7 linked regions of the Homo sapiens genome follow. The protein of the gene in region 7 purifies or fractionates together with the protein of the main gene of each other region. This does not show direct contact. Each region holds a gene or a part of one and is shown on either strand. Other genes may lie near its edges.

Region 1 (4,707 bases), on a different chromosome or scaffold from region 7:
TTCCTTGAAATTCAATACAACAAAAGTTCATTAACCAAAACTGAAGGAAATACTGAAATGAGATTGCACCTGTGGGATGATGGTTTTAATCTACATATAAATTTCAATTGTTTTAAAACCCAAATTGATTAACGGTACTACAGTTCCCAAGGAAGGCTTCAGGTAAGATGCTTATCATTCGGGTTTCTGCGTGGGACTAACAGGTTACTAGCAGCTCATGGGCAGCAATGACCCTAGGATGACGCCACGCGTGAGACGGCAAAGGGTGAGGGGTGAGGAGCGAGTCCGGCAGGTCCACTGGAGACTCCGAGCCCAAACCCCGCTCCCCTGAGCCGACCCGACTCGCCTCCTAGGTCTGGGGCGGCAACTAACAGCGCGCCCGGAGCACGTCCACAGGTTCAACCCGAAAAGCACAAGGGTCGGCCGTCCAGCGACCTCTCTTACCAGGGGGTCATAGAGCACCACGGAGCAGGACGTGCCAAAGGCCAGAAGTCCTCTGGGCCCAGAGCTCCAGTTCAGGACTCCCCGCACCCGGTTTGGGCAGCAAAACACGTGAGAAGTCTCCAGCACGGGTGCCACCATGTCGCCAACTGGTCAGCCGCACAAACAAGAGACGCGCACTTCCGCCCTCGGAGCGGAACTACTAGGGTGGTTTCTCCTGAGGCATCACCCAGTCCACGTTTCGCAGCCAGCCGAGGGCCAGACGGAGGCAGCCCCGCCCCCCTGAGACTCTCCGTTCCCACCGCAGGCTGGAACCCCTGTGCAAGGCCGCCGCTTTGCTAGCTCTGCTCTTGGACCGTGGCCCCGCTCCGCGAACGAGCCAGGCCTTTGTCTCAAGAGCGAAATCCGACCCGAGTGGCTCGGGACCCTCCCGAAGGACCCGGGGCTCATGTGCCTGGGGCAGCGTCAGAAACATCTCGCTGCCCCTTACGACCCGGCTCCCAGCAGCAGCCAGGGCTGGCCCCGGGGGCGCTGGCTAGCGAGTAGGGCCTCGAGGAAATGACCCCCAACTGCTTACAATGCGCTAGGGCCGCGCCACGCCCCCGCGGCGTCGGCGAACACACGGAAAAGCGGATCCGTCTGCGGAGCCGGGTTCCGGGGTCGCACTGCGCATGCCCTGCAGTCCTGGGCGAAGGGGGCGGTGGTTCCCCGCGGCGCTGCGCGCGGCGGTAATTAGTGATTGTCTTCCAGCTTCGCGAAGGCTAGGGGCGCGGCTGCCGGGTGGCTGCGCGGCGCTGCCCCCGGACCGAGGGGCAGCCAACCCAATGAAACCACCGCGTGTTCGCGCCTGGTAGAGATTTCTCGAAGACACCAGTGGGCCCGTTCCGAGCCCTCTGGACCGCCCGTGTGGAACCAAACCTGCGCGCGTGGCCGGGCCGTGGGACAACGAGGCCGCGGAGACGTGAGTCTTTCAGGTCCGGGAGCAGGGCGGCTGGGAGGGGAGCTCCTCAGGCCAGACAGGCGTGGCGGGGTAGGGGTGGTTCTGCGGAGAACCGGATCCTGCGGACCGGGCAGGGGGGCTACAGAAAGAGGATGCTGGGGGGAGCCCGCCGCAGGCGCCCACTCACCCTAGAGAGCCGGACTTCTTAAGGTGCTCAGATGGGCTTCGGGGTGCAACGGAGGATTTTTTGAGGAAAAGATCCGTACTTTTCATCCCATATTCGAAGAAGGGACTGACGTGTTTAGAAATAAAAAGCTTTTAGAAGAGAGCTTTGTGCCCTCTTTTCCGTTTTCTGTACTCGCCTTTTTCTCTAAGGCCCTTCCCTTCTGCTTTCCTTTTTCCTCCAGCACACACCAACTTGCAGGAAAGGAGATCCTTCAACGGGTCCACGACCGCGCTCAGCATCCTCCCTGGAGAAAGGCTCGGAGCTGTCCCCTGTGCTAGTCCCCTCCCACCCCGCTCCTCGCCTCTCTCCTGGGAATGATTTCTAAATGTTTATCTTTTACCTAGTAAAAGAATTCCCGAAACTTCAAGCCCCAAAGATTCCTCTTTCAGGAGCCTCGTTCTACGCCGTACCTCCATTTCCCACTGTTCCCTGTATGATACCTCGCACTTGTGCAACACATGAGTTTAACGAGTACTTGTAATATACATTCCTTCATGTGTTTTCCTCCTTCGCCTTGCAAAATAGGTTTTACCGGTATTTTAGATAAGGTAATGAATGCGAGAGCCCTGTCCAAAGAACAGCTGACCGTGGTAGAGCTGGATAGCCCCATGCTCTTGCTTAGTTGTAAACTTGACGTCTGCGTCTTTTGCTGGAGATGTGAGTTTGACCACCATCACCTCCACCGTTGGTGCTGGACATCCTGCTGGATCTGAATTAACTGAATTCTGGCTCTGCTTAACTGAATTCTGCTTTTCAAGCTCCAACTCAATTGCTTCCTCCTCTTTGGGGCACAGGCCTTTGGTTCCAAACACTACTGTGGATGATTAACAGCCTGTGATTAAATGTTGACTGGTTTGTAGTAACACAAGGATGCTACAGTGAGTTTTTCATGAAGTTCAGTTTACTTTAAGAATTCTATGTATGGACATAATGTGTCTGATTCATTGTCAAGTCGGAAAAAAGATTCAATGTGTATTTAAAGTATACACTTATTTGAGGCTGGGCGTAGTGGTCACGCCTGTAATCCCAGCACTTTGGGAATTGGAGGTGGAGGATCTCTTGAGGCCAGGAGTTCAAGACCAACCCGGACAACATAGTGAGACCTCGTCTCTAGAAAAAAAAAAAAAAAACTTTAAAAAAAAAATTAAGTATACATGTATTTGAGTATGCATAGAAAATATCCTGAGGGATACACTGGCAAAATTGAGCACCTTTGAGGATTGTGATTGGGGAAAGGGGTCTTAAATGGGCTTGTATGTAAGGAGAGTGTATTAGTTTAAAATTTTTTAAATATGTGAATTCTGAGATTATTATTTCTATTTTTTGGTGTTTGAAGGTTATTTTATGAAATGATGGTGATGATCAAGGTAGCTAGATTTCATTTCGTTCTTTTTTTTTTTTGAGACAGGGTTTCACAATGTTGCCCAGGCTGGTCACAAACTCCTGGCCTCAGGTGATCTGCCTGCCTCAGCCTCCCAAAGTGCTGGGATTATAGGCATGAGCCACCACACCCAGCCTAGATTTAATTATGAATCATTGGCCTCAATGATTCAAATAATCGTTCAAATAAATTCTCAACTTCAGTAAGCAGTTGATGGCTGTGGCCACATGGATCTCCCTTGTCTCTGAATTACTATTGCTTTTACAGTGCTAATGGCAGTCTCTTAGCACTCAGCTCTTCTCCAGTTGTTTCATGTGTTTTAGGAATGCAAGGGTAGAGCCTAGGACTCTAGTTCTTTCCATCTTCACAGTACCTAGCGTCACACTGGTCACACCACATGATGCTCTGGCAACTTTGATTATTTGATTACACATTAATTTTCAGTATGAGGTTTCTTAATTCAATTTGTTTTAGAAGTGAGTCAAGAATTTTTTTTTCCTGTCTTTTCTAGGAAGGCGCAATGGCGAGGAAGTTATCTGTAATCTTGATCCTGACCTTTGCCCTCTCTGTCACAAATCCCCTTCATGAACTAAAAGCAGCTGCTTTCCCCCAGACCACTGAGAAAATTAGTCCGAATTGGGAATCTGGCATTAATGTTGACTTGGCAATTTCCACACGGCAATATCATCTACAACAGCTTTTCTACCGCTATGGAGAAAATAATTCTTTGTCAGTTGAAGGGTTCAGAAAATTACTTCAAAATATAGGCATAGATAAGATTAAAAGAATCCATATACACCATGACCACGACCATCACTCAGACCACGAGCATCACTCAGACCATGAGCGTCACTCAGACCATGAGCATCACTCAGAGCACGAGCATCACTCTGACCATGATCATCACTCTCACCATAATCATGCTGCTTCTGGTAAAAATAAGCGAAAAGCTCTTTGCCCAGACCATGACTCAGATAGTTCAGGTAAAGATCCTAGAAACAGCCAGGGGAAAGGAGCTCACCGACCAGAACATGCCAGTGGTAGAAGGAATGTCAAGGACAGTGTTAGTGCTAGTGAAGTGACCTCAACTGTGTACAACACTGTCTCTGAAGGAACTCACTTTCTAGAGACAATAGAGACTCCAAGACCTGGAAAACTCTTCCCCAAAGATGTAAGCAGCTCCACTCCACCCAGTGTCACATCAAAGAGCCGGGTGAGCCGGCTGGCTGGTAGGAAAACAAATGAATCTGTGAGTGAGCCCCGAAAAGGCTTTATGTATTCCAGAAACACAAATGAAAATCCTCAGGAGGTAAGATGAGTGCTGTTCATTATTTTAATATACCTGTGTGTCTGTCCTGTCTCTGCTACTCTATCTCTAGTTATGAGGAGTTTAAAGTAAAAGTAAAATGTTGAAGTTATTGAAAAGGGAATTTCCACCTTCTCAGCAAGGCACTTGCCACAAAGCATGCCTGCTATGTTGTAAACATTCCCAATTCAGAACTTAGGGAACAGTTCTTTTGGTGAGCGTAGTGCTGCCTCCTACAATTTTTTCTAATACAGAATATAAAATATGTAGAGAAAGATATCAAGGCTATCTTTAGAGAAAGTCTATAAAGGTGAACATTATTAATAAAAAATAGAAAATGAGGGGTTGAAAGCAGGAGTTAGAATCCATATTGTAGGGAAAGGTGTGACTGAAGGGGCTGAAGACTACTGAGA
Region 2 (4,232 bases), on a different chromosome or scaffold from region 7:
GGCCACACGTGGCTGCTTAACTTAAATGAAGTGAAGAGCCCAGACACTCAGCCACACCAGTGCCATTTCAAAGGCTCAGGAGCCACCACCCTGGACAGCACGGGTCTAGAATGTTCCACTGTGACAGAACATTCTCCAAGAACATGCTGACCTGGAGACACTGCGTCCCTGGAGGCCCCACCTCCCGCTGTGCCCAATCAGCATGGCCCAGGAGAGGGGCTTCGTGACACTTCATTTAAATCCTAGACTCCGCGAGCAGTGGGCGGAGCTGGGACAGGTTGGGGTGGCTGCATCCCAGGTTTGGGAAGCAACACATGGGATGGACAAGACCAAGTCGGGGGTGGCTGCTGGCCCGGGAGCCAGCAGAAGTGGCAGGGACAGTCCAGGAGAGAGGGGAGCTAAGACAGTGGAGAGTGTGCACAGAACTGGGGGGAGACCCCAGCAGGATGCACGGTGAGGAGGGGCACTTCCTGGTGAAGCAGGGTCCAGCCATACAGGCAAGGGCATCCACCTGACCCCAGGTGTGGGGGAGCAGTCCTACCCCAGAAGCCCTCGGCCATGCAGGTAGAGGGGCCTGGTGCACAGAGAGGGGCTCCCCTGTAGCAGGCAATGGTGGGGTTGTCTGCTGGGGTGGGGGCCACACACACAGCAGGGACCCGCTCCAGGGGCTAGGGTGTGGCTACAGTGTGCCAACCGGAGCAGGGGGCCACAGACCAGAGCTTGGGGGTCCTGAGTAAGGAGTGAGGCCAAGGGCTGGCCTGCCTGTGTGGCAGAGAGGAAGCCAACATTGCTGAGTTGGGCAGTCCATGACCAGGGAAGAAGCAGGTCACTGTCCCAGGGGTGGGCCAGGCCGGAGGAAAGCAAGGGACTGGCTGGCCAGGGAGGCAGATACTCTGGAGGGAGGCCACTCAGAGGCTGGGTGCCTCTTCATAACAAAACCCAGCCTCATAGAGCCCCAGCTCACATTGGTGTAGCTGTGCACGGTGCAGGCTGGGCAGGCCCTGCTCCGTACTCCAGCTGCTCCGTGAGACCGTGGCAAGTGGCTCGGCCTCTGCGCCTCAGTAAGCAGGCTCTGGCCTGGCCCCACACTGCAATGGGGAGGCTGTAAATTCCTCGCACTAAAGACTACCAGGAGTACCTGCAGTCCCTGTTGCCCTCATCACTGCAACCAGCCGGCTTGGGGCTGGTCCACTGTGCCCTGTTTCTCACGCTGCAGCCCACACTCATGTCCGCACAGCTGTGCACACCCAGAGCCACTCACACCTGCACACAGTTCCTGCAGCAGTGGGAGGGGCTCAGCGGCTGGAGCAGAGGGCGAGCCGTGGGTCAAGGGGCACAGGCAGATAGGGAAGGCCAGTTAGCACAGGACTGGCCCGCCATGCCCCTGCTGGGTTGTGTCCCCACGCCAGGGAGCCCCAAGTGGGGGCTCCGGATCAGAACAGGGCGAGGGCCCTGGGAACACATCTGGCCTGGCCCTGGGGGATGCCCCTCCTCCCCCTGCCCTGCATTACCAGTTGCTCTTCCAGGTGTGGCGCACGTCAGCATCGTGGATCTGGTGCTTGTCGGCCTGCTCATCCAGGAAGTCGAACATGTACTTGATGGCCAGCGGCAGGGCTGAGCCCCGGTGTGCCGTGCTGAAGATGGTCTCAAACAGGTCGTCCACAAACTTCTGCAGTGTGCCCTGCGGGGGGCAGGCAGGGACACTGAGCCCCAGGGCGCTGCCTGGCTGCCTACACCTCCTGGGTGACTAGGCAAGTGGCCATGGGAGCATGGGGGTGAGGCCCTTGCTCTGGGCTTGGCACTTTCTCTGAGCTCAGTTGGCCCAGCGTCCCCTGCCCCCATCTGCCAGCCAGGCCCACCTTGGTGGCCAGTAGCCGTGTCAAGTAGATCTCCGAGACCATCTTGCTGCCGCGGTCACCCTCACGCTGGTCCAGGTGGTCGTGGTTCTTCACCAGGTGCCACAGCTTGGTGCCGCTCTCCAGGTCGGGCGTGATCATGGGCGTGCGCGAGCGCAGGCTGTCGGGGCTGCTGGCCGTGCGCAGCATGCTCTCTGCAGCACCAGGCTGTCAGCGCCCGCGTTGGCTGGCACCCCGCACCCCCCGCCCGAGCCTGTTTCCCCATCTGAAAGCTGGGGATGGCACCCCCACCCATGTGGGATTTTGGGGCAGCCGATGACACCACAGAGGTGGCATAATTGTGTACGGACACACAGTCGCGAGGAGGCGCAGCCTCCAGAGCTGGAGGGTAAGGCCAAGAGTGCGAGTGACAGGCTTGACACCTGCCCCTGGGTCCTCCCGTCCGGCTGCTGCAGCGTGGGAGCCCGGGGGACGTCCTGCCCAGGCCAGGGACCCATGCGCTGCCCTCTCGCCCGCTGCCTGGCCCCTCACCGTATCTGCTGAGGGACTTGGTGAAGGTGGAGGAGTTGGAGATGTTGTAGGCGGACGTCTGCTTGGGCACCAGTGCCACCGAGGACCCGTCTGTCACCTGTGGGCAGAGGGCCAGGGACCCTGTGACCCACCAGGGTGCCCCTGCACCACCAGGCTCCCACTCCCCGGCTGGGGACCCCGGTGACACCCTAGTGCTGTGCCTGGAGGCAGCCACCTCACTCAGTCTGGAACTCTATATCAGGACAGCCCAGGGATGCTAGGCAATCCCACAAGCCCAGCTCGAGTCCTGGGACGGTCCACACACATAAGTGACCACCTCCCCTCCTCTCCCTGACAGATCCAGCTGCTGTCCAGCCCACATGCTGCAAACATTGGTGGCTGCGCTGTGGAAGCCCCAAGGGGAGGGAGGCCTGTGCTAGGGTCGGAGGGCCGGGAGCCACCTGGTAGTGAGCCAGTGTGTTCAGCCTCTTCCAATCGTTGTCAATCTTGGTGGTGACGTCCTCGTCCTGCAGGATGATGCGCGCCATGCGGCCCTGGCGCCACTCTGGGGGAGGAGGGAGCTGGAGGGTGGGGCCGCTGGGGCCCTCTTTCCCTCCTCCATCACAGCAGTGTAGTGGGACGGGGCCTGCCTGCAGCTCTCAGCACCAGCACAGGGCAGGGACATACCTCCGCCCCTGCTGCAGCACACTTAACCTGCCATAGTCCCCTGCAATGTGCCACAGCCCTCCCAATCTGCCACAGCAGCCCCAGCCTAAGGGGGTCTGCCCTGCCTTCCGCAAGCCTTAGGGCCCCAACTCCTCAGCCTGGCACCGAGGCTTCTGTGGGGACCCAGCCTCTCCAGTCACATCTGCAGCAGGACTCCGGGCCCCACCCCAAACCCGTCCCATCCCCTCTGGCCCTCAATGGCTCCACCTGCCCCTCTCATGAGCCTGAGTATCCCCCTCAGGGCTCCAAGAGCCCACTGCCTCCCAGAGTGCACTGGAACCCACCACCTCCCAGAGTCTCTGCCCAGAGCAGGGCAGCCACCCTCTATACCCAACCTGGGACTGGACAGCCCACTCGCCATTCCACTGCCCTCCAGACCAGCCTGGTGTGGAGGACTGGCCTGGCCTTCCCCGCCAAGCTCAGTACTAGGCCATGGCCCTGCCCCTCTGCTCCAGCACACACCCCGGGCAGCCGTGGCCCCGCCCGCTCACCCAGGTCCATGTCCGCGGCCTTGGGCCGCTGGGAGTAGGGCACGCCCTTGTAGGCAGCGTCCAGCAGCTTCTCCTTGGCCTGGGTGACCGTGTCACAGTCCAGCCCCTTCACCGGCACCTCAGGTGCATTCTCATTCTCAGGGTTCACACAGTTCAGGGTCTGCGGGCGGGGTGGAGCAAGGGGGCAGCGTCAGCCCCACAACTGGGGGGTGGGGGGCACCAGGGCACCCAGGACAGAGGGCAGCCACGCTCACCAGTGTCTTGTAGTCAATCTGCTGCCGGATGAGCTTGTCCTCACTCAGGGAGTAGCGTGCCTCACCCGTGATGGCGTCAATGGGGCCCTTCTCCATCTGCTGCTTGATGGCGCAGTACAGCATGAACAGCGGCTCCCCAGCGCACTCCTGCGGGGGTGGCGGCATGAGGCTGCAGCCAGGACCCCCGGGCCTACCCCCAACCTGCCCCTCCACCCGTCGAGTGCCAGCCATGGTGTTCCTGGCAAGGAGAAATGAGCAGCACTTCCCAACTCTTTGGGAGGCAAGTACAGCCTTAGTCCCAAAGCCCAGCAGAGACTGCAAGAAAATCAGGAAACAAAACATACCCACCATCCCACAAATATCACATGAAAACCCTAAATTACACATGAGCCAGG
Region 3 (4,232 bases), on a different chromosome or scaffold from region 7:
TGCCCCTGCGGCAGCCACAGAGAGCACAGCTTCCTCAGAACACCAAGGTGTCAGCATCACAGCCACTTCATTGTACAGCTAGGGAAACTGAGGCCCAGGGGAGAAACTGAGTCCCATCAGTTCACATTGGTCATCTGTCCTCCATGCATTCCCCATCAGCTATGGTTCCCTGACCCCAGCCCAGCCAGTGATGGCCTAGCTGGGCGACTTCGAGACTGCTGAGGCCCCCTGTAGGCCTCTCTCCCTCCCCTGCTGCCCACAGCAACACAAGTGGGCTGGGGCCTTTCGCTGGGGCCTCCTCTCCTCTCCTGCCTCTAGGATGGCCTCACCCAGCGCAAGGCATCTGGCCCTCTGGACCCACAGACAGAGGCCAGCCATGTTGCCCGTTCTCCCCTGCCGTCCTCCCACTGGGACTTGCTCAACAACCCTATAGGGTAGGTCCTATTATCACCCCCATTTCCCAGGGGACGGGATGGAGGCCTAGAGTGGAACTGCCAGAAATGCTGGGGTGATGGCATACCCGGGTGAGTGGGGTCTGTCTGAGATGGCTTCTAGGTGGAAGCTGCCTTGTGAAGGCATTCATTCATTCATTCATTCAGAGATGGGGTTTCACTCTCTTGCCCAGGCTGGAGGGCAGTAGCATGATCATAACCCACTGCAGCCTCAAACTCCTGGCCTTAAGGGATCCTCCTGCCTTAGCCTTCCAAGGAGTAGTGCTACAGGTGCAAGCCATGCACCTGGCCTGGGAAGGCATTTAGATGGGCCAGTTAGGAACCAAGAGGTTGGGGGAGGTTGTTTGGGAGGTGGTGATCCGTGGGGGCAGGAACAGAGTAAGAGCCTGAGGTATGTTCAGGATATGCTAAGAATTCAGTTTGCTTTGAACGCAGGGCATTTAAGTGAAGGAGATTAAAAAAACACCAAGGCAGGAGAGCCAGGCAGGGTCTGAGGGGTCCTTCACAGCCTTGAACCGAAGGGTTGGTCAGGCAGTGGGGAGCCATGTGAGGTTCCAGGACAGGGGAGTAACACACGGGAACACACAAAGGCATGGCTTCTCCCTCCAGCCTGGCCGGCTTCCCAGGCATCGCGTGGGCTCAGAAGCCAGCCAGACAACCAGGGGACGATCTCGCTAGCTCAGCTGCCCCAGGGAACTTCCTCTCTGGGTCTCAGGGGTGGCCCTGGCTTCTGGGAGTCTTTGAAGACCAAGGAGCTCATCCGGGCGAAGGGCCTGTGCATCTCCAGCGGAATTACTGCGCATCGCGGGAGTCGTTGCGCATTGCAGGAATCATTGCGCGTCGCAGCCACAAGCAGGGCACTGATGGGCAGGGCACTTCTGAACGACCCCCAGGGGAGGGCAGGCAGGGGCCAGTGCAGGGAGGGGGCTGCTGGCAGGGCTCTGGAGGCCTCCCCAGCTTGTCAGCCCCCACTGCATCATTTGTGGAGCCAGCAGCCGGTTGCTAAGAGACCTGTTGCTAAGTTGTAAGTTGGGCCTTTTTACTCCAAACAAAGCTGGTGATTATCTGCCAGGGAAGCGGCCCATTGATGGGGGAGGGTGTGGGGTGGGGATGGAGGGGGTGCGGAGAGCCGGGAGGGGACTGGTACCGTAATCAAGCCCTTCCCCGCAGGCTTGTCATTCAGCAGCAGCAGAGGCCTAGTGATCTTCTTGCTGGAGACGATCTAGGGGAGAGAGGAGAAAGGGCGCTCAGTGAGGAAGCGGGGGAAGCCCGGGAAGGAAAAATCCTCCACCGGCACCGGAAAAATCCTCTTGGCAGGGCTGCACCCCGCCCTGGCTGGCTGGTGACCCGCCTGAGCATCATCATCACCCTGGGAGGTGGACAGCAGCCAATCTGGGCAGTGAGGAGCCTGAGGCCCAGAGAGGGTAAGAGACCCGCCTGAGGTCTCCCGCTGCAGTTGGACTCCCACTGCCTGGTTTGCCCCTAGGAAAAGGCATTTTGGAGACAACTGTGGGAGGTTAGCCCCCTAACTCCCTCCTCCAGAGGCATTCCACAGACCCCACCTGCCTCAGGATATGATCTCTGATGGACAGAGTCAAGCTCAGATTCTATGTATTTTCCTTTTGAGACAGGTCTCGATCACGGCTCACTGCAGCCTCAACCTCCTGGGCTCAAGCGATCCTCCCACCTCAGCCTCCTGGGTAGCTGGGACTACAGGCATGCATCACCACGCCTGGCTTTTTTTTTTTTTTTTTTTTTTTTTTGGTAGAGACAAGGGCTCATTATGTTGCTCAGGCTGGTCTCGAACTCCAGGCTCAAGCGATCTTCCCGCCTTGGCCTCCCAAAGTGCTGGGATTACAGGCATGAGCTATAGAGCCCGGCCAATTCTTTCTATTTTTATTGGTTTCAATAGGTAATACACTTACACAGGGTGCAATAATCAAAACAACATAGAGAGGAAAAGTGGGCCACATTGCAAAGTCACCCTCCCACCTGTGTCTGCCCACTGCACTCAGGGGCCAGCATGGTTCGTGCTTCCTGGGTGCAGTGCGAGCGTCGTCCTGTGCAGCGGGGAGCACACATCAGTATGATCTAGTCCTGCTCCTGTGGGGCTAGTTCTTCTCCGCAGATCCACACACCTGCTCTGTGCCCTGGGGACTGTGCCACCTGGCTCTTTTGCCCTCTGGCTTTCAGAGGTTCAGCCAGTTGGGGGGATGGGCAGGAGACGGGAGAGCAGGTGGCGTGAGAGGTGGGGGCCCCCGTTTGATGGGAGCTTCTCCATTACTCTGTCTTCTGCCTCAGTTGCAGTCCAGAGGCCTCCCTCTATGGGCCACAGGTCTTACCAGGCCCTGGCAATGCCACTTCCTCACCCTGCCTTCCTTCCAGGTGAAGGTGGTCAGCTTTCCTCTGGGGCCAAGCCCTGGACTGGTTTCCCCATCCCTTGTCAGTTCCCTGCCCTGTCCACAAGCCCTTAAGCTCTCTTCTCAGTTATACCACAGGGTAGGGACCCTGACTACTGTACCCTGCTTCTTACGCAAAAAGTAGACATCACAACCATGGCAGTCCCTTGCTTTCTGCATGGTCACCATCTCCTGGAAGGCCCCGGGCATTTCAGTCTCCACTAGGACCCCTCAAAGCATTTTCCATTTCATTCCCTTATCAACCATGTAGGCTGGGCAGAGCAGTCATCATAATCCCCAAGGAAAATGTGGGGAAACTGAGGCCCAGAGGGGGATGGGAGCTTATCCAAGGGCATACAGCCATAAGGAATGATTGAGACTTGTGTCAGGGGCGCCTAGCCCCGCTTGCTCCCGGCCTCCAGGAGCTTACCAAGGACTGAGATGGATGGGGAAGTGTGGCCCAGAGAGGGAAAGGAAGTTTCTCAAGGTCACACAGTGAGTCTGCCACAAAGCGGGACTACTGTGGGTGTCTTGGTTGCTGGTCAGATGCTCCTACCCCCAGAGGTCAAGACCACACCTGATTATATCTAACAATCGGAATCCCTGGCCACCTGGGGCCCCAGATCCTGAGAGGCATTCTGTTTGGCTGCCTCTCCAGATGGGAGCTCTTCAGCCCGGCCTTGAACCCGCCAAGACTGTTCCCCACTCTGCATCTGCACTTTGGGACCCACCCAGGAAGATGGGGCTAGGGAAAGACAGCACGAGAAGAGACTTTTTGAGGGGTTGCCCGGTCTTTGGGCCCCTGCTCCCACCCAGGAGGGCCCAGCTCACCGTGCCCAGGCTGCAGGAGAACTGGCCCAGGAAGTCATGCTCGTCCAGCCGCATACTGGACTTGTCCTGGTCAAAGAGCGCGAACTTGAGCTTCTGTACCTCCTCGAAGTGGTAGTCAAGCACGAACTTCTTGGAGAAGGCGGGGTTGAGGTTGTTGATCGCGGTTTCTGTCCTGTCGTACTAGCAGAGGGGCAGGAAAATGGAAGTCAGAGTCAAGGCAGCTGGTCCAAGACCTCGCAGGCTGCTGGAAATCATTCTGCTAACTTGTACAATGCCTACTCTGTGCCAGGCTCTTGTGGTCATCGTCAGTGACTCACTATCCCCAGCTCACAGACAAGGACACTGAAGCACAGAGAGGTTAAGTGACTTCCCCAGGGCTGGACAGCTTGTGGAGCAGGGCCGAGATTTGAAACCGAGGTCTGACTCTGCTACCCACACTCTTAATTCTTTGGCCCTGGCTCCCTACCCAGGTGCCAGGGTAAGAGCTCAGGCCCTGCCCCTGCCTGGGTAAGAGATGGAGGACAAGGCCCTTTCCCCATCTGGGCCTCCG
Region 4 (4,232 bases), on a different chromosome or scaffold from region 7:
ATGGCCTTGAAGAGCTTGTACAGGGGCTCCCCGGCACTGTCCTGGAGTAACACGGAGGGGAGGCTGGGAGGTCAGGGGACTTGGGGCCTGGAAGGGGCCCCCGGAGCCCTGGCCAGAGGCATGGACGGGGCTGACCATGTCAGGGGCAGGAAGCAAACCTGTCCAGGCAGGGCCCACCTCAAGGTGCCGTACAGATAGGGGAACGCAGGAGGGGATGGCAGCAGTCTGCCTCATCCCTCAAGCCCCAGCCAGGCTGGGGTGGAACCCACCTTGAGGTACTGGTACAGGCAGATGGACATCCAGTTGGACAGCATCCTCTCCACCACAGTCTCAGACCTGGGGGTGCAGGGAGGCCTTGTACCGAGTGACCCCGTAGTATTCCTGAGGCCCAACTGACTCCTCCAAGCACCCGGCCACCCTTGCGCCAGCCTCGCCCCTGTCCAGCCTGGGTGTGGCCTGCAGCGAGGACTACCTGGTGGCAGCTCCAGCCCTTGTGGGAAGTGTGCCACCTTCCTTCTGTTCTGCAGAGGGCTGACACTGTGACCAGCTGAAACCGCTGGACAGGAAGGGCTAGAGTCCGGCTTTGAGTTTGTGGCCGGGGACACCACCCCTAGACCGCCCCCCACCACCAGCGCTGGCTGGCACCTGCCGGCTCCTGGGGGCCCAACAGGCCGCTGTGCCACCCGCCACCAGCCCCAGAGCCCCTGCGGCCGCCCCGCCCGTGGCCCCGCTCGTGGCCCCGCCCATGTGCACCTGCGCAGCATCAGCTTGGGGTTCTTGGCCACCACGTACTGCTCCAGGAGCTCCAGGAAGAGCGTGTGCATGATGTCCGTGTAGTACTCCAGTTTCCCGTGCAGCGCCACCGTCAGCAGGGACGCGAAGTAGACCTTGGCGCGGGCCGAGAACTCCCGCTGGTTCTCCAGGGTGTGGATGAACTGTAGGGGCCGGCGGTCAAAGCCTGCCCGGCGCCACCTGTGTGCCCTCCCGCCCGCCCGACGCCTGGCTCACATTGATGAGGAAAGACTTGCTGTTCAGCAGGTTGGAGAACTGGTAGAGGGCCTGCTCCACCACCGGCCGCCGCGGCTCAGGGATGTCCAGCTTGCCGGTGATCATCACGTCCTTGTCGCCGTCCTTGGAGGGCAGGAAGAAGACGCGGTCGGTGTAGGTCTTGTAGTCCAGCACGGGGATGCCGGCCTCGTGCACGTCGTTGGTCTGGTCCTCCATCTCGATCATCAGGTCTGGGGGGAGGCTGGCGTGAGACGTCCCTGGCCACGTGGGGCCCTGACCCCCACGCTACACACAGCATCCCCGCCCCAGGAGGCGCCCCAGCACCAGCCCCCAAGCGGTCCCTACCTGTGAATTCCTTCTTGCAGCGGTCCCGCACGCTCTCCTCCAGGCCCTCCAGCTGGGACTTGATCTTCTCATACTCTCGTTCGGCCTGCTGGCTCTTCCTCCTGCAAGGCACAGCGGGCCTCCTAGGTTCTGCCGGGGCTGGCCGCTCAGCTGCCCGGATGAGGAGGTGGATCTACACGCCTGCCTGTGCAGGGCGGCGGATGAGGCCAGAGGGGCCGAGGCGGGAGGGCCGAGGGCTCAGGGTGTTGGCACAGCCGGGGGGCGGGCTCACCAGTAGCAGTAGACAGACACCGCGATGACGACCACCATGGGCACGATGACCAGCGGCAAGATGAGGCTGAGCGGCACGTCGCTCACCCGTGTGTCGTACTCCACGCGGCCCAGCACCCACTCGCGAGAGCCGAACTTCACCTGTGTGGGGGGCCGGGTTCAGCGCGGTCCCGTGGGGGCACCCCCCGCCAGTCCCCGCTCACGCACAATGAACTCGGGCAGGTTGTGTGTGGTGTCTCGTTTCTGCCGCCGCTTGGGCGGGGGCTGCACCTCCGGGGGCTCACAGTACAGGTCGGTCTCCGTCAGCGTCTTCATGGTGCAGCGCTCGGCACCCACGAAGGCCTCGGCCTCCTGCAGCGTCATCGCCTTGTTCAGATTGGTGCCCTGGGGAGGCGGCAGTGGTCGGGGTGAGGAGGAGGGAACCAGGGACAGGTGGACCAGCTCTCAGCCCAGACCCGAGCAGGACCCAGACACCCGGGGCTGCACCGTCCTCACCCGGGCGTGGATGAGCTTGTTGACCTGCTTCTTGACGCCACCTGTGAAGTTCTCAAAGGTGGGGTCAGGCACGTACTCGAAGGCCCCGGCCTCTGTTCTGAGCAGGGCACGGTGCCCGTCCATCTCGATCAGCACCGTGAGGTTGTAGGCCTCTGGCTCCTCAGGCACAGCCGGGGACAGGAAGACGACCTTGGTGTCATTGTGGAACACGTAGTCTGTACCCACCACCTGCAGGCAAGTCCCAGCTGTCAGCCCCCGGGCGCAGACCCCGCCCTTCCTGGGCACGATCCCATGGGCCGGTGCCAGAGCTGAGCCCACGCCAGGACTGACCGTCATGGGCTGCAGGGATTCAGCCTCCCGCGGCGGCTGCCAGGACTGCAGGGGCTCCGCGATGACCACCATGGCAAACCTCTGGATCAGGCTGAAGCCCTGACCCGTGACGTTGATGCTGCGGCCACCACTGCGGAGGGCAGTGCCTTCGTGGGCTCGGCTGGCAGGGGTGGTCCCTGCAGCCTCCGCCCTCCCGTCCCCGCCCACCCTGGCCCTGACCACACGGGGCTTCCAGGTGCATGTGTGGGTCTCGGTGGGCAAAGGGGCAACGCGGTGGGACGTGCTGAGCACGAGACTGTGCCGCAAGTGGGCGGGGGGCACACGGGGCCTGGTGAGCGTGGAGCCTCTGGTGTGCCCATCTGGGTTTCTAGGAGGAAGTGGATCTGGAGTGCAGTGGGGTTTTCCGGAGGCCGCCTCCCGCTGCACAGACCAGCCCCACCACATTCCTTTCAGCACAGTCAGCCAAGGGCACTGAGGAGGCAGCTGGGTGTGGGGAGCAGAGGGGGGCGGGGGGACACCAGCCTCACCTGGCAAAGCTTCGTAGCGGCTCGAAGGCTCGCAGTACGGGGTTTTCGCGGTAGGTGAAGAAGATGCCGGGGTTGGGCACGGGGGACCCCCCGTAGGAGACCTCCAGAAGCATCTGGCCCCGTGTCGCCTGGGGGCCAGTGACACACTGGAGCTGCGCCCCAAACTTCGTCCTGGGGGAGGGAGGGTGCTGGTCTGCATCAACCCCTCCCCCGGGACCAGCCCCAGCCCGACCAGGCTGGCCCCGCCATCCCCTCAGGGCCACTCAGGTCTCAGTAAGTGCCCCCCTCCATACCCAGGGCCAGGGCCAACCAGACTCAGCAGCTGGCGGTGACACCCACACTTTACACGGGACGCCGTTGAGGGTCACCCGCACGTCCTCCTGGGAGCCCGTGTCCAGGTGGGTGCCGTGGATGGTCAGTGTGGTGCCGCCCGCCTGCGGTCCCTGCTGCGGCTCCACACTGAGAGGCTTGGGCTGCTGAAAGAGCCGCAGGGGCACTCGGGTGAGGACGGGGCACAGGACGCCCTCGGTCCTGGGCTGGATGGTAACTGTCGTGGGGAGGCGGCGGGCAGAGCCCCTCCTCCCGGTCCTCCCGGGTTCGGCAGGTCCCCGAGGCCGGGTGCTTACTTGGAAGGTGAACTGGACATTGGGAGGCGAACGGCCCAGTTTCCCGAAGACGTCCACCTCGACACCCCCCGTGAAAGGCGTCTCCGCAGCCTCGATCACACACACGATCCTGGCGGGCGACAGGCAGTGTGGCCCAGGCACTCCCCGACCCACCCCACACCCTGACACCCTCACCCCCTCAGCCTCCCCACCCACCCAGTCACCCGGAACCCCAGCGTGGGTACTGACCCAGCTGACAGGGCCCAGACCAGGGCCGTCCACTCACCGGGTGGACACGGAGTAACGTTCCGGCTGAAAGGAGCAGTTCCGGCCGGCCACAGAGATCCTCTGGATGTCCCCTGCTTGGACGCCCAAATTGGACCCCAGGATGGTGATGCGGATGCCCCCACCCAGGGGGCCCGTCTCAGGCTGGATCTGAAACCACAGAGCCGGGTGAGCAGGGAGGGGCTCATGCCAGGGACGAGGGAAGGTGTAGGCCAGGCTTCGAGGGGCTCACCCTGGTGATGACGGGCGGCGGGCACTCGGAGGTGGTGTTGCACAGGGCCTCATACACGCACCTGCTCTGGCCCCCGCACCACGCACACCTGTAGTCGGGGTTAGCGGCCCGGCACAGGCTGCAGTCGCTGCGGCC
Region 5 (4,232 bases), on a different chromosome or scaffold from region 7:
GGCAGCGCCCAGGAAATGTTTTTCCACCAAATGACTTTTTAAGTGAGCAGAGAAGAGGCATCTGCAGCGGGGCTGGGAAGAGGATAGGACAGAAGAGAAAAGAAAGGGAGAATAAGAACTGTGTGAACTCAAGGAAGCCCTATAGCTTTCCGCAGGGGCCCATTTCCTCAGGGTCATGGGGATGCAAAGAGATAATGAATGTTAAAGAATTCACCTGTCAAATGTGAGCTCACCTGTGCATTCTCTTCTCCATGAAGCATGGGAGCTTGCTGGTTCTGAGGTCTCTTCCTACTCCGGCCATCTTGGTGGTTCTACCTGAGTGCGTGGAGAGGGCTGGAGTTCGCAGCTGCTCTTCATCAAGGGCCCTGCCCCTGGGTGAATGGGAGACCCTGGCTTGCCGCAGCCATGATATCCCTTCTCTTCCTTCTGCCCAGGCATCTTTTGAAGTATCATTGGAGGCCCGAAGCTGTCCCAGCAGACACACGGAGCATGTGTTTGCCCTGCGGCCGGTGGGATTCCGGGACAGCCTGGAGGTGGGGGTCACCTACAACTGCACGTGCGGCTGCAGCGTGGGGCTGGAACCCAACAGCGCCAGGTGCAACGGGAGCGGGACCTATGTCTGCGGCCTGTGTGAGTGCAGCCCCGGCTACCTGGGCACCAGGTGCGAGTGCCAGGATGGGGAGAACCAGAGCGTGTACCAGAACCTGTGCCGGGAGGCAGAGGGCAAGCCACTGTGCAGCGGGCGTGGGGACTGCAGCTGCAACCAGTGCTCCTGCTTCGAGAGCGAGTTTGGCAAGATCTATGGGCCTTTCTGTGAGTGCGACAACTTCTCCTGTGCCAGGAACAAGGGAGTCCTCTGCTCAGGTAAGTGTCCCCAGCAAGCACTTTAGCTCTGAGCCAGGCCAAGATGCCGTTAGGACACCCTCCCAAAGCCTGCCTTTTACTCAGTGGTGGTAGAAAGTGTCACTACCATGGCTCTCCTTGGAGAAGACAGTGGGCAAGCCTTGCTACCCGTAGGCAGGAGGTGGGGATCTGTGTGCAGAATACGAAAGCAGAAGGTATTGCCATAAATTGTGGACTCTCAGAATTCGAGGGGCCTGCGTGGGTCATCCACCTTACTTCCCAATTCATGCAGGACTGGCCTGCACAGCATTCCTGACAGGTAGAGATGTTCAGCCTCTTCTTGATTGCCTCCTGGGACGGGGAACTCACTGGGGCTGGCAGTGGCCATCTGTCCCTTAGCCAATGAACTCATATCTTATTGCTGCTCCCATAACTCACCACAAACCTGTTGGCTTAAAATAATACACATTTAATCCATTACAGTTCTGGAGGCCAGAAGTCTGAAATGGATCTTATTTGGCTAGAATCAAGGTGCCAGCAGGGCTGCATACCTCCTAGAAGCTCCAGGGGAGAATCTGTGTCCCGGCCTTTTCCAGTTCCTAGAGGCCACCTGTATTCTTTGGCTTGCAGCTCCTTCTTCCATTTTCAAAACCAGCAGAGTAACATCCTCAGATCTCTCTGACTCTGACCTCTGCTTCTGTTGTCAAATCCTTCTCCCTCTCCTACAGACCCTTGTGGTTACAAGGGACCCTCAGTCGAACCCTGGAAAGTCTCCCCATCCCCAGGTCCTCAGCTTACTCACATCTGCACAGTCCCTTTCACCACGTAAGGCCACACAGTCACAGGTTCCAGGGATTAGGATGTGGACATCTCTGGGGGCTCTTATTTTTCCTGCCAGAATTCCTCTTTTTTTTTTTTCTGAGATGGAGTCTCACTCTGTTGCCCAGGCTGGAGTGCAATGGCAGGATCTCGACTCACTGCAACCTCTGCCTCCCAGGTTCAAGCAATTCTCCTGCCTCAGACTCCCGAGTAGCTGGGATTATAGGCGCCCGCCACCACACTCGGCTAATTTTTGTATTTTTAGTAGAGACGGGGTTTCACCATGTTGGCCAGGCTGGTCTTGAACTCGTGATCTCAAGTGATCCATCCACAGCCTCCCAAAGTACTGGGATTATAGACGTGAGCCACTGTGCCCGGCCCAGAATTCCTCTTTATACTGAAGAGAAACTTGTTTCTCAATAACTTCCTCCCAATGGTTAACATTCTAGAGTCCCCCTTCCACGTGACAACCTGTCAAACATCTAAAAGCTGCTTTATGTTTCTCTGTTCTCTCTTCTGATCTAGGCTAGACACCCCAAGTCTCTTCCTTGTCCGAGGGTGCTATCATTTGTGAAGCATGCTTCACATAATCAAGTGCGTTACTTGTCATGCTGGATGATGAGGGCTTGGTCCAGGGTTCAGTGAAGCATGCGTTTCCTGTGATTTGGACATTCTGCTTACATGGATGCACCCTGACAATACATTCACCTTTTTTTATTTTCTTCTTCTTCTTCTCCTTCTCCTCCTCCTTCTCCTCCCTTCTCCCTTCCTCTCTCTCTCTCTTTCTTTCTTGTTTCTTTTTTTTTTTGAGATGAAGTCTCGCTCTGTTGCCTAGGCTGGAGTGCAGTGGCACAATCTCAGCTCACTGCAACCTGTGCCTCCTGGGTTCAAGTGATTCTCCTGTCTCAGCCTCCTGACTGGCTGGGATTACAAGCACCCACCACCACGCCTGGCAAATTTTTTTTTTTTTAAATAGATATGGGGTTTCCCCATGTTGGCCAGGCTGGTCTCGAAGTCCTGACCTCAGGTGATCCACCCACCTCAGCCTCCCAATGTGCTGGGATTACAGGTGTGAGCCACTGCGCCCAGCCCACCTTTTCGTTCTGTTAAACAGTCACAGTATACTCTTGAGCTGGTTTTTAACTTCACTACCAAAAGTTTGAGGCTTTTAATTTATTTTATTTTTTAGAACTGTGGTTCAGAAGGAGAGGTACTTTTTTAGTGTGTTGTGTTGGAGCCCTTAATTTTCTGAATCTAAACACAGGAGTTTACACTGATTCCAGTTAAATGACAAGTTGGCAGTTCCCACTCTGGTATTGCGTTCTGATTAAATGCTTCAAAATTGTATCTCAAAGTTTATCTAACACCATGCCACCTGTAAAGGTAGTAAGTAAAACAGTTTTAGGCAGGGCTGTGGTTTCTTCTACACATCATGTATTCTGTGGTTTCCAGGGCTCCCTCCTTAAGAATGGTCTTCCAATTGGGATGGGTGGATTTGAAAGGAACTAAGGGATCAGCTGGGAAAGAAAGCACAAGGTGCATCTGAAGCAAACCAGGAACGTGCAGATACTCCGTCCTATGGGAGGAGGAATTGTACTGCCACACAGGGTTGCACAGACGTGGGTTAACAAGGGAAGCTTCCTGGAGCGGACCTTGCCGTGACACAAGCGTGAGTACACCCATGGGCGTCGTGGGACCAGCATGTCTAAAACTGGAGTTGCCCTGGAGAGTGCAGGACTTAGCAGTGTCATTGCAGAGTAAAGTAGGTGGAAAAATCAGGATTCAACATGCCAAGCATGCAACAGGGATCAACGCTTTCCTCAGCAGAGTGATGATAGGTTGGTGTTAGCTAGATGGTTCTGTCTGGTTAGTAGAAAAAGTTTGGGCTCCATAGCAGGAGGCCTGGGCCTAAGTCCCATCATACCATATCTGCTAGTGTGACTTGGGCATAGAGTTGTTATGAGGAATAAGAGATGTGTGTGAAGCACCCAGTATTTTGCCTGGCACAAAAGGAAAACACACCCAATGCTGGCTCCTCTATGAGTCAGTGCCACACCCCTCTGGGGGGGCCACACCTGGTTCCCCATGTGCAGGAGGGCCCCGCCTTCCCCCAGACAGTCCCCAGGCTTTGCCTAAAAAATTCCAGGGTGGTGGAATGGAGTTTCCATTCCTCTTAGTAGCCATAATAAAAGCTCTAAGCAGCCTGGCAGGCTTTTTAGCAGTTTTTCTTTTAAAGAGATATTAGCAAACGTGACAGAACCATCCCTCCTTCCCCTTCAGGATCCTGAAATAACCCTCTGGTATGTCTTCACCCTAGAAGCCTGCGTGTGTCCATGCAGCCTGGGAGCAAGGGCGTTTGAGTCAGATGCTGTGTGCACGTTTCATCTCCACAGTTCATCAGGCTGTGACCTTGGTTGTCTTGGACTTTGGCTTTTCCTGTCTCCTAAGATGGGCCAACACCATTTGTTTCTGCATTATTTTGAGAATTGAAGGAGAAGACAGAGATGAAGGCCCTGGCCTGGTACTCGGTAGGGAACAGGACCCAGTGGATGTTAGATGCCTCCTCTGTC
Region 6 (4,232 bases), on a different chromosome or scaffold from region 7:
ATGTAGCCAAGGTTGAAAGACCACTGCTCTATGGCATTATTGGCTATTTTGCCATGTCATTTAACTCACTGATTTTCAAGCCTGGGGCACATCTGAATCACCAGGGGATCTTTTAAAAAACACAGAAGCTGTGGTCTTACTGCTAGAGATTCTGCGTTAGTTCATCAGAGATAGGGCCCAGGCATCTATGTATTTTTAAAAGATCGAGAGGTAATGCAGAAGTACAACCCAGGGTGGAGAATCATGCATTGAAAACTTGCTAGAGGTCCCTTTACAGTAGGCTAGTGAACCAACATGATAGTGGGACTCAAAACTAATCTTACTTAGATCTGAGGCACATCTTGCAATGTCACAATTTTACATACCAGAAGAAGTGCGATGAATATTAATTGTTGAATTCATTTCAGGGCTTCCTTGGTCCAAATAAATTATAGCTTCAATGGGAAGAGGTCCTGAACATTCAGCTCCATTGAATGTGAAATACCAACGCTGACAGCATGCATTTCTGCATTTTAGCCGAAGTGAGCCACTGAACAAAACTCTTAGAGCACTATTTGAACGCATCTTTGTAAATGTACACTCCTGTCACAAACATAGAAATGGGATTTAATTAACATTTTCTATTTTAATTAAAAAGAGCTTTTGAGACTGGTGAATTTTACTTAACTATCCTTTTCCCCAAAATGTATTTAAAAAGTTTAACTTGGCCGGGTGTGGTGGCTCATACCTGTAATCCCAGCATTTTGGGAGGCCGAGGGGGGCAGATTACTTGAGGCCAGGGGTTAGAGACAAGCCTGGCCAACATGGCGAAACCCATCTCTACTAAAAATACAAAAAATTTGCTGGGTGTGGTGGCGCACGCCTGTAATCCCAGTTACTCGGGAGGCTGAGACGTGAGAATCGCTTGAACCCAAGAGGTGGAGGTTGCAGTAAGCCGAAATTGTGCCACTGCACTTTAGCCTGGGCAAAAAAGTGAGACTCTGTCTCAAAAAAATTAAAATAAACAAAAATAAAGCTTAACTTTTATAGAGGGAGGGAGATTTTCTGCAAGCTAGGTAAGAGATTTTGATATAGGAACTCTAAGAAAATCAAATTGCAGCTTTCTCAGAACTTTTCGCCCCATTGAGGGTATCTTTCAGTTTTATCAAAAAAGGCTAGCCTTCAGTACTTTTGATAAAATCAATTTATATATTTCCTCTTTTTTTTGCATTCAAAAAATATTTACTGAGCCCCAACTATGTGCTAAATGGTACAGATAGAGCAGTTAACAAACCAGAATCCCTACCTTCATGGAACTTACATTCTAGACTAGTTCTGTCCATTCGTATTGACTCTTGACGTGTTTCTTTTCGAGCAACAGCAAACAGTATGAGGGAGTAAAGGATAGGCAGGGTTTTTAGTCTTTATCTATATGATGCAATGATAAGGCCCAGGTTTCTTGTTTGCTTATTTTCTCATTGGTCTATGCAAATTTGTCTGTCTATTGGCTCATGGACCTATTATCCTTTACTCATAGAAGGTTACCATACCCATCCTGACCATTGCTAAAAGGAACTTGAAAACATATTAATAATTCAGAACCCACAAGGATAGCTTTTAGAAAGAACTCAGTAACTTTTGATGAACAACTATAAATAAACAACCAGTCTATCAATGTCAGATGTTTAAATAACTAGGGAACATTTTAACAAAATGTTTTCTAGAAACACACATGAACACAGAAAAGGTCATAGTCATCATAACTATGGAAGCTACATGGAAATTCTATCACAAAACAAGACAGTCTCAAACTCTTAATAGAGCAGAAAGAGCTGAGATAAGGAACAGGGATTATACACAGAGTGCATCTTAAAATCTTGGAGTTTTATGAAACAAATTTCTTGTAATTGCTTGATGGTAGCAGTAAAATCATGAAGTAATATGTTGTGAATATGGAACCATGTACAGAGTTCATCAACAGAGAAAAGAGGCTTATAAATAGCATCAACTTCTTCAACTCTCTTCCATCCCAGTGGACTTGCCAATTACTTTTGAAGCAAACACTAATCAAAGTGACTGAAACATTAGTCAAAATACATGACCGGACAGGCTATTTTGAGTAATTCTCTGCCACTCAGCCTTAATGTTGCAGAATAACTTAAAATAATCACTGTAGTACCTCACATCTAACCCATTTCACTTCTCTTAGGCTTAGCAGTTTTAAGCTGGGCATGCTTCCTAAATAAAGACAAACACCAATGGACTTCTGCTTCCAGATCAATGTGGTAATTTCTTGGAAATTTTTTCCCACCTTTATGTCTGAAGCCAGGACAGAATTTCTTAGACTAAATTTAAATTTACTTTAGGATAAGATTGGAAAGTTGCTTACTGTCCAACACAGACACATATGCTCTCTTTTGTTTGCATTTTTAAAAAGTATGTTATTTTAGATACTATGGTTAAAATGATAAGCATTTGTCTTAGAAATATCTCTATGAAATTCTGAAATGTTATAAACTTTTTCATTAGTTTTAAATTAAAAGTCACATGCTACCTACTTCTCTTTTTTAAGTCTTTTAGTTAAAAAAAAATAAAATGTCACCTAAAAATTAACACTAAAATATGAAAACCCTTAAATCTTGCTTCAATTTTAAAATAATTCAAACTTACCGCAATTTTCCCAAGATCTATGCCATAATTCAATGAACTCCATGAACACTGCTTGTAGTTGGGTGTCCAGGACTCCTCAAAGCTTTCCCTCAGACATTCCCCCTTTTCTCCTTTGAATCCATCCCGACCTGGGATCCCAGGTGTACCCGGAATGCCATTGGCCCCAGGGCTCCCGTCTCGACCAGGCACTCCTGCTGGCCCTTGTAAGCACATTCCATTATACTATAATGAGAAAGAAAAGGCAAAGAAAACTCTCACCACTTAAGAGTCAAAGACTCAGTATGATTAGAAATGCATTTATTTTGAGCCCTTGGAGTCAAGAATCCCTTCATACCACATGCCCGTGTTCTAGATGAGTTATTACAGAGAATTCATTTTCAAATTATTTCTAAAATATTGTGATTTCCTTCATATTTTTTAGTGCACAGACTTTACACGCACACACACACACATCAGAGGAGGACAAAATTATTTGCCTGCTCCCTTCTGCTCATTATAGGCATACACAATTTTAAATAGCTGTATTCCAAGGTGGGAATAATTTGATATTCTGCTTTTTTCTTCTAACTCTGTATCTTGCAAAGGGACCTGGATTTTTACAGTTTTATGCAAACATTGCACTATTTTTGGATAGTTTATTTCTACTTTTTTTATTATGAATATTATTGTAATGAAAATATCCATACAGCCTTTTTCTTCTTTTGAATTATTTCCTTAAGATAAATTCCTAGGGACATAATTATAAAATAAAATCTTAAGAGTCAATAATTATCTTGTACTGGCAATAGCTCCAACTTGGGTATGAAAATCCCTGCTTCTCCCTGTTTTTAAGTGGGGGAAGCAGTGCTTGGATAACATTTCTGGCCTCTCATCCCACCCCTCTTCCCCAAGGAGAAGCAGTAAGTGACCCAGTTTCAAGTGACCATTAGTTCTCAATAGGGGACCATCCACAATCTGTCAAACTGTCTGTAAGGACTATGATTTTCTGTTTGTTTGGAGAAGGACATCTTGTAGCATTTAAATGCATGGATTCTAGAGCCAGTTTCTTTGGATTTTGTCCCGGCTCCACCTTACATTAGCTCTGTGAGATAGGGCAAATTACTCAACATTTTGGTGCCTGTTTCCTTATCTGTAAAATGTGGATAATAATAAAGAGTCTTACTTTATAGGGTTTGTATGAGATTTAAGTGAATAATATATAAAATGTGCTTAGAACAATGCCTGGAACACAGTAAACACTGTATGTGTCAGCCATTATTATTCCTATGTTCCCCAGGACCAGTGCAAGGCAGCAACTCTGGGTAAGTGTGTCCACTGCCCTGGGTGGACCTTTCAGGATTTAGACCTGGGGAAGAGAGCATTAGCAAACCCACCAGCCTAGCACACATAAGCCATACATGCCAATGCTGTATGATCAGTGGTAAAGGTGATATCCTGTGCCCCACCTGTCTAATTCCTGTGTCTACACCTGAATTGGTTCAGCTAGGAACAAAGGTGCCGTTTATTAGACACTCCAAAACCCAATGCAATCCATTTAAATGTTTACTCTAACATTTCCTCTATTTGTGTAAGTTGCCTAGTAT
Region 7 (4,690 bases):
GAAGAGAGAAAGCATTCATTGCATATTCATCTGAGCAGCTTTCTAGAACTGATCCAGTCAGACTAGAAAAATTCTACCAAGCTCAAAAATCATCACACAAAAAACAACCACTTAGAGTCTCTGGAAACTGTCCTAACAGAAAATGTTTTTGAAATGGCATTATATTCTGTTGGACCTAATTAAATCCTTTTCTCTCTTCGCATAGTAAGGACCCATAGTCCCTCCCTGGTGACACTTCCTACTTCAGCTTTCCCTTGTTCTCAGTTTTAGGTGCACCCTACCTCAAGTTCTTACTGCTTCTGCTCGTGGGACTATAACAAACACTACTTCTTTTACCTCAGTAGGACATCACAGCCCATTGCTTCCATGCATCCCAGGAGCTGGGAGAGACTTGGGCCTCTTCTGTCTGCTATTTTTTTTTTTAATATTGCTAATCTCAGGCTATGGTCTGAGAATCAAACAGCAAACATTTTTGCACTTCTATTTTCTAATAAACTATCTGGATTCCTCCTAAAAGTTGGAACTGAGGTAGAGTTGACATCTAATTTCACAGCCATGTTGATACAAATGAAGCAAATCTTTACAATATTTCAATATGTATAATTCCAAGGCACAATGAGCAAGGTATAGGAGTATGTCCCCTGTGTCTAGCTGTTTCTCCAGGCTTCTCCAGAATGATGGATGAAAATGTAATTGGCAAGTCAAATGTCTACTGTGGAAGCCTACAGGAAAAGGGATGTGAAATGCTTGACGTGATGAGGGATGCAGAGTGTTCAGCACTTATTTACTGAGCAGCTCATCACCTGATTGTATAGTATACAATATATGAGAATTTATAGAACAGTGAACATGTAAACACATAGAACAAATAAACATATACAACATATAAACACTGTTTTTAACATTTATTACATACATAGAACATATAAGAATTTATAGAGCAATGAAAATACCACATTTTGACATTTGTATTGTACTGTGAAAGATTTATATGTATTTGTATAAAAAATAAATAAAGGTGATAATCTCTTGTGATTTCCCCAAAATACAGCATCCTTTTCATCTTTTTCCATTATGTAAATATGGTATGATAGAAATATAATATGCTGTGAAGTGATAGACATCATGACATATCAAAATGTATTATATATACACATATATATACATGTACATATTTATTGAAGTATAATTTATATACAAAATATACAAATTCCAAATATGAAATTCAGAGTTTTGACAAATGTCCACACCAATGTAACCATAGTCAATCAAGACATAGAACATTTCCATCACTCCAGAAACTTCCCTTGTGTTTCTCTGCAGTCAACTCCCATCCCACCTCAACCCAGGTAACTACTGATACAATTTCTACTGCTATATCTTAGTTTCGCTTGTTCTAGGACTTCAGAATGTACCCTATAGTGTCTAGATTTATTCATTCAACACAAGGTTTTTTAGATTCAGCCATGTTTGTTGCAGTTACCAGTAGTTTTGTCCATTTTATAGCTGAAGAGTATTTCATTATTAATACAACACAAATTGTTTGTCCATTTTCTTGTTGAAGGTCTTTTAGGCAGTTTACAGTTTGGGGATATTATAAGTAAAGATGCTATAAACGTTCTTGTGTAAGTCTTATAATGGGCATAAGTTTTCATTTCTTTTCAATCTAGGATTGGAATTGTTGGGTCATAGGTTTCATGTATGCTTAATTATATAAAACAATGTTAAACAATTTTTCCTAAGTGGTTGTAGCATTTTACATTCCAACAATAATGTATGAGAATTATAATTGCTCCATATTCTCAACAACACGTGGTACTGACAATATTTTTAATCATAACCATTTTAGTGGGAAGAATAACTCACTGTGGTTTTAATTTGCATTTCCTTAATGACAAAACGATATTGAACATTTTTGTGTGCTTTTTGTCCACTGGCCTAGCACTTTTCGTCATTTTTTCTTATATTCATTATTTTCATTTTATTTTTGCTAATTATTGAGTTGTTAAGAGTTCTTTATGAACTATATTCTGAAAAAAATTTACAGCATTCAAATAAAGTGTTGCAAATATTTTCTCCCAGTCTGTAGCTTGACTCTTATTCTCTTAACAATGTATTTTAAAAGGAGAGTTGTTAATCTTAAGGTCAAATTTATCAGATTTTTATTTTATATCTTGCTATTTGCTTTCTATTTGTCCCATTTGTTCTTTGTCCTCTTTCTCATCTTTTTTGTCTACTTTCAAGCATTTAAAAATTTATTCTATTTCATCGCTGCATTGTAATATTATTGTGTAATATTGTAATATTATCACTGTTTTTGTTACTCTAGCATTTGCTTTAGGGATTACACCATACAGATGTTTTAACTTAAAGATAACTTGTAATAGCCAACTTTTAATAGGCATTATACGACTTTACACACAGTCTAAGAACCTTACAAACTAAACTATATTTCCATTTACTCTAGGTTATTGTTGTCATATATTTTACTTTTACTCATGCTGCAGAACTCACATGACACTGCTATTATTTCTAAACAGCCAATTATCTTTAAAAGATATTTAAGTAATAAGGGCAGGTATTGTATATTTACTTATGGTGTTACTATTGCCAGTGCTCTTCATTTCTTTGTGTGGATCCATGTTTCTATCTGCACAAAGATATTATTCTTTATTTTCCTTCTTCCTGAAAGGCTTTTACACTGTTCTCATAGTCCAGGTTTGCTGATAATATATTACTTTTAACTTTTCTATGTCTGAAAAATATCTTTGTTTCATCCTTTCTTGAAAGACGGTTTTGCTGGGTATAGAAACCTAGGAGAGAGAGTTTTCTGCTTTTGGTTGGAAGATGTTTCACTGGAAGCATGAAAGATGTTGCTCCACTGCCCTTCCCCTTGCATTGCTTCCAAAAAGAAGTCTGGTATCATCCTTGTTTTTCTTCTCTGTGTAAGACTTGTCTTTTTCTCTTTACCACACTGAGTTTTGATCCATTTGCTTATGATGTGTTGTGATGTGGTTTTCTTAATAGCACCCCTACTTGGGGATGTTGAGCTGGGTCTGTGGGTTTATAGTTTGCATCAAATGTGGAAAATGCTTATGTATTAATTTTTAAAAATATTTTTTTCTATCCATCCACTCTCTTTTCTCCTTTGAGAACTCCAAATACACACAGATTAGGCAACTGAAGTTGTCCCACAGATCACCGATACTCTGATTATTCTTTGTTTTTTTTCTGTCTCTGTTTCATTTTGGATGCTTTCTACTGCTATATATATTCAAGTTTATTAATATTTTCTTCTGAAAACTCTCATCTGCCATTAATTACATCCATTGTATTTTTTAATCTTATACATTAACATTGTCATCTCTCGAAGTTTAATTAAAGCCTTTTCTTGTCACATCCTAATCTTTGAAAATACGGAATATAGTCATAATATTTTTCATTAGTAATTCTAACATCTGGGTATGTGCTGGGTCATTTTAGATTGATTTTTATCCTCATTATAGGTCCTATTTTTCTGCCTCTTCACACACTTGGTAATTTTTTATTGTATACCAGACATTGTGATTTTACCTCGTTGGGTGTTGGATTTTTTTTTGATGGAGTCTGGCTCTGTTGCCCAGGCTGGAGTGCAATGGCGCAATCTCGGCCCACTGCAAACTCTGCCTCCCGGGTTCATGCCATTCTCCTGCCCCAGCCTCCCGAGTAGCTGGGACTTCAGGCGCCCAACACCACGCCCGGCTAATTTTTGTATGTTTAGTAGAGACGGGGTTTCCACCTTGTTAGCAGGATGGTCTCCATCTCCCGACCTCGTGATCTGCCTGCCTCGACCTCCCAAAGTGCTGGGATTACAGGCATGAGCCACTGTGCCCGGCCTGGTGTTGGATAGTTTTATGTTACTGGAAATACATGTGAACTTTGCTCAGAGATGCCAATTAGTTATTGGAAACGGTTTGATCTTTTTTTCCAAATCTTTGAAGATTTGTTCAGTGGGGCCGCCATAGTAATACATGGTCTAGGACTTGCCAGGACTGAGGCAAGACCCCTATGAATATTCTACCTAATGCCCTATTAATTATGGGGATTTCTGGTATAGCCCATGGCAACCACCTCTATTCATGGTTGTATGTGAACATGCACTCTCAGTGAGAGTAATATTGTCCCCAAAACGACAGAAATTAGTTTTTTTGGGGGGGATGGGAGAAGTGAAGAGAAGAAAAATATTCTTTTTGTGTAAAGCCCAGATATACGTATAGTACTAAAGAGATATGCAGTGCATGTGCGATATTAAAATTTCAGGGCGGGCGCAGTGGCTTACGCCTGTGATACCAGCGCTTTAGGAGGCTGAGGTGGGCAGATCATGAGATCCAGAGATCGAGACCATCCTGGCTAACACGGTGAAACCTTGCCTCCACTAAAAATACAAAAAAAAAAAAAAAAAAAAAAATTAGCTGGGCATGTTGGCTTGTGCCTGTAGTCCCAGCTACTCGGGAGGCTGAGGCAGGAGAATGGCATGAACCCTGGAGGCGGAGCTTGCAGTGAGCCAGGATCGCGCCACTGCACTCCAGCCTGAGCGACAGAGCAAGACTCCGTCTCAAAAATAAAATAAAATTAAATTAAATTAAATAAAAATTAAAAAATTCATAGAGAGGTGACTAGAAAAGATGTTTAAAAAGATTCCTTGAGGTCA

The links.
Region 1: the proteins of CNTNAP3 (region 7) and SLC39A6 purify together in Homo sapiens (affinity purification with mass spectrometry; one large-scale study listed by BioGRID and IntAct). This does not show direct contact.
Region 2: the proteins of CNTNAP3 (region 7) and PLXNA1 purify together in Homo sapiens (affinity purification with mass spectrometry; one large-scale study listed by BioGRID and IntAct). This does not show direct contact.
Region 3: the proteins of CNTNAP3 (region 7) and CPNE2 purify together in Homo sapiens (affinity purification with mass spectrometry; one large-scale study listed by BioGRID and IntAct). This does not show direct contact.
Region 4: the proteins of CNTNAP3 (region 7) and PLXNB2 purify together in Homo sapiens (affinity purification with mass spectrometry; one large-scale study listed by BioGRID and IntAct). This does not show direct contact.
Region 5: the proteins of CNTNAP3 (region 7) and ITGB5 purify together in Homo sapiens (affinity purification with mass spectrometry; one large-scale study listed by BioGRID and IntAct). This does not show direct contact.
Region 6: the proteins of CNTNAP3 (region 7) and CTHRC1 purify together in Homo sapiens (affinity purification with mass spectrometry; one large-scale study listed by BioGRID and IntAct). This does not show direct contact.

What each region holds. Positions count from the first base shown.
Region 1 is NC_000018.10:36,125,809-36,130,515, reverse strand, and holds the start of SLC39A6 (zinc transporter ZIP6 isoform 1 precursor), read left to right. Parts: upstream 1-1,175; 5' UTR 1,176-1,402; intron 1,403-3,499; 5' UTR 3,500-3,508; coding exon 3,509-4,297; intron 4,298-4,707. Other genes in the region: ELP2 (elongator complex protein 2), read right to left, coding at 445-582. UniProt on the Homo sapiens protein: Zinc-influx transporter which plays a role in zinc homeostasis and in the induction of epithelial-to-mesenchymal transition (EMT).
Region 2 is NC_000003.12:127,027,692-127,031,923, reverse strand, and holds part of PLXNA1 (plexin-A1 precursor), read right to left. Parts: intron 3,985-4,232; coding exon 3,838-3,984; intron 3,744-3,837; coding exon 3,584-3,743; intron 2,932-3,583; coding exon 2,828-2,931; intron 2,485-2,827; coding exon 2,388-2,484; intron 2,051-2,387; coding exon 1,860-2,050; intron 1,682-1,859; coding exon 1,512-1,681; intron 1-1,511. UniProt on the Homo sapiens protein: Coreceptor for SEMA3A, SEMA3C, SEMA3F and SEMA6D. Necessary for signaling by class 3 semaphorins and subsequent remodeling of the cytoskeleton. Plays a role in axon guidance, invasive growth and cell migration.
Region 3 is NC_000016.10:57,112,918-57,117,149, reverse strand, and holds part of CPNE2 (copine-2), read right to left. Parts: intron 3,863-4,232; coding exon 3,683-3,862; intron 1,675-3,682; coding exon 1,600-1,674; intron 1-1,599.
Region 4 is NC_000022.11:50,279,736-50,283,967, forward strand, and holds part of PLXNB2 (plexin-B2 isoform 3 precursor), read right to left. Parts: coding exon 4,098-4,232; intron 4,016-4,097; coding exon 3,867-4,015; intron 3,711-3,866; coding exon 3,602-3,710; intron 3,452-3,601; coding exon 3,315-3,451; coding exon of another isoform or gene 3,269-3,314; intron 3,147-3,268; coding exon 2,976-3,146; intron 2,816-2,975; coding exon of another isoform or gene 2,579-2,815; coding exon 2,449-2,578; intron 2,347-2,448; coding exon 2,119-2,346; intron 2,008-2,118; coding exon 1,831-2,007; intron 1,765-1,830; coding exon 1,625-1,764; intron 1,455-1,624; coding exon 1,354-1,454; intron 1,239-1,353; coding exon 1,009-1,238; intron 936-1,008; coding exon 754-935; intron 337-753; coding exon 270-336; intron 42-269; coding exon 1-41.
Region 5 is NC_000003.12:124,793,020-124,797,251, reverse strand, and holds part of ITGB5 (integrin beta-5 isoform a precursor), read left to right. Parts: intron 1-434; coding exon 435-864; intron 865-876; exon of another isoform or gene 877-3,331; intron 3,332-3,979; exon of another isoform or gene 3,980-4,232.
Region 6 is NC_000008.11:103,374,377-103,378,608, reverse strand, and holds part of CTHRC1 (collagen triple helix repeat-containing protein 1 isoform 1 precursor), read right to left. Parts: intron 2,872-4,232; coding exon 2,650-2,871; intron 583-2,649; coding exon 366-582; intron 1-365. UniProt on the Homo sapiens protein: May act as a negative regulator of collagen matrix deposition.
Region 7 is NC_000009.12:39,063,820-39,068,509, forward strand, and holds the end of CNTNAP3 (contactin-associated protein-like 3 isoform 1 precursor), read right to left. Parts: 3' UTR 891-4,690; downstream 1-890.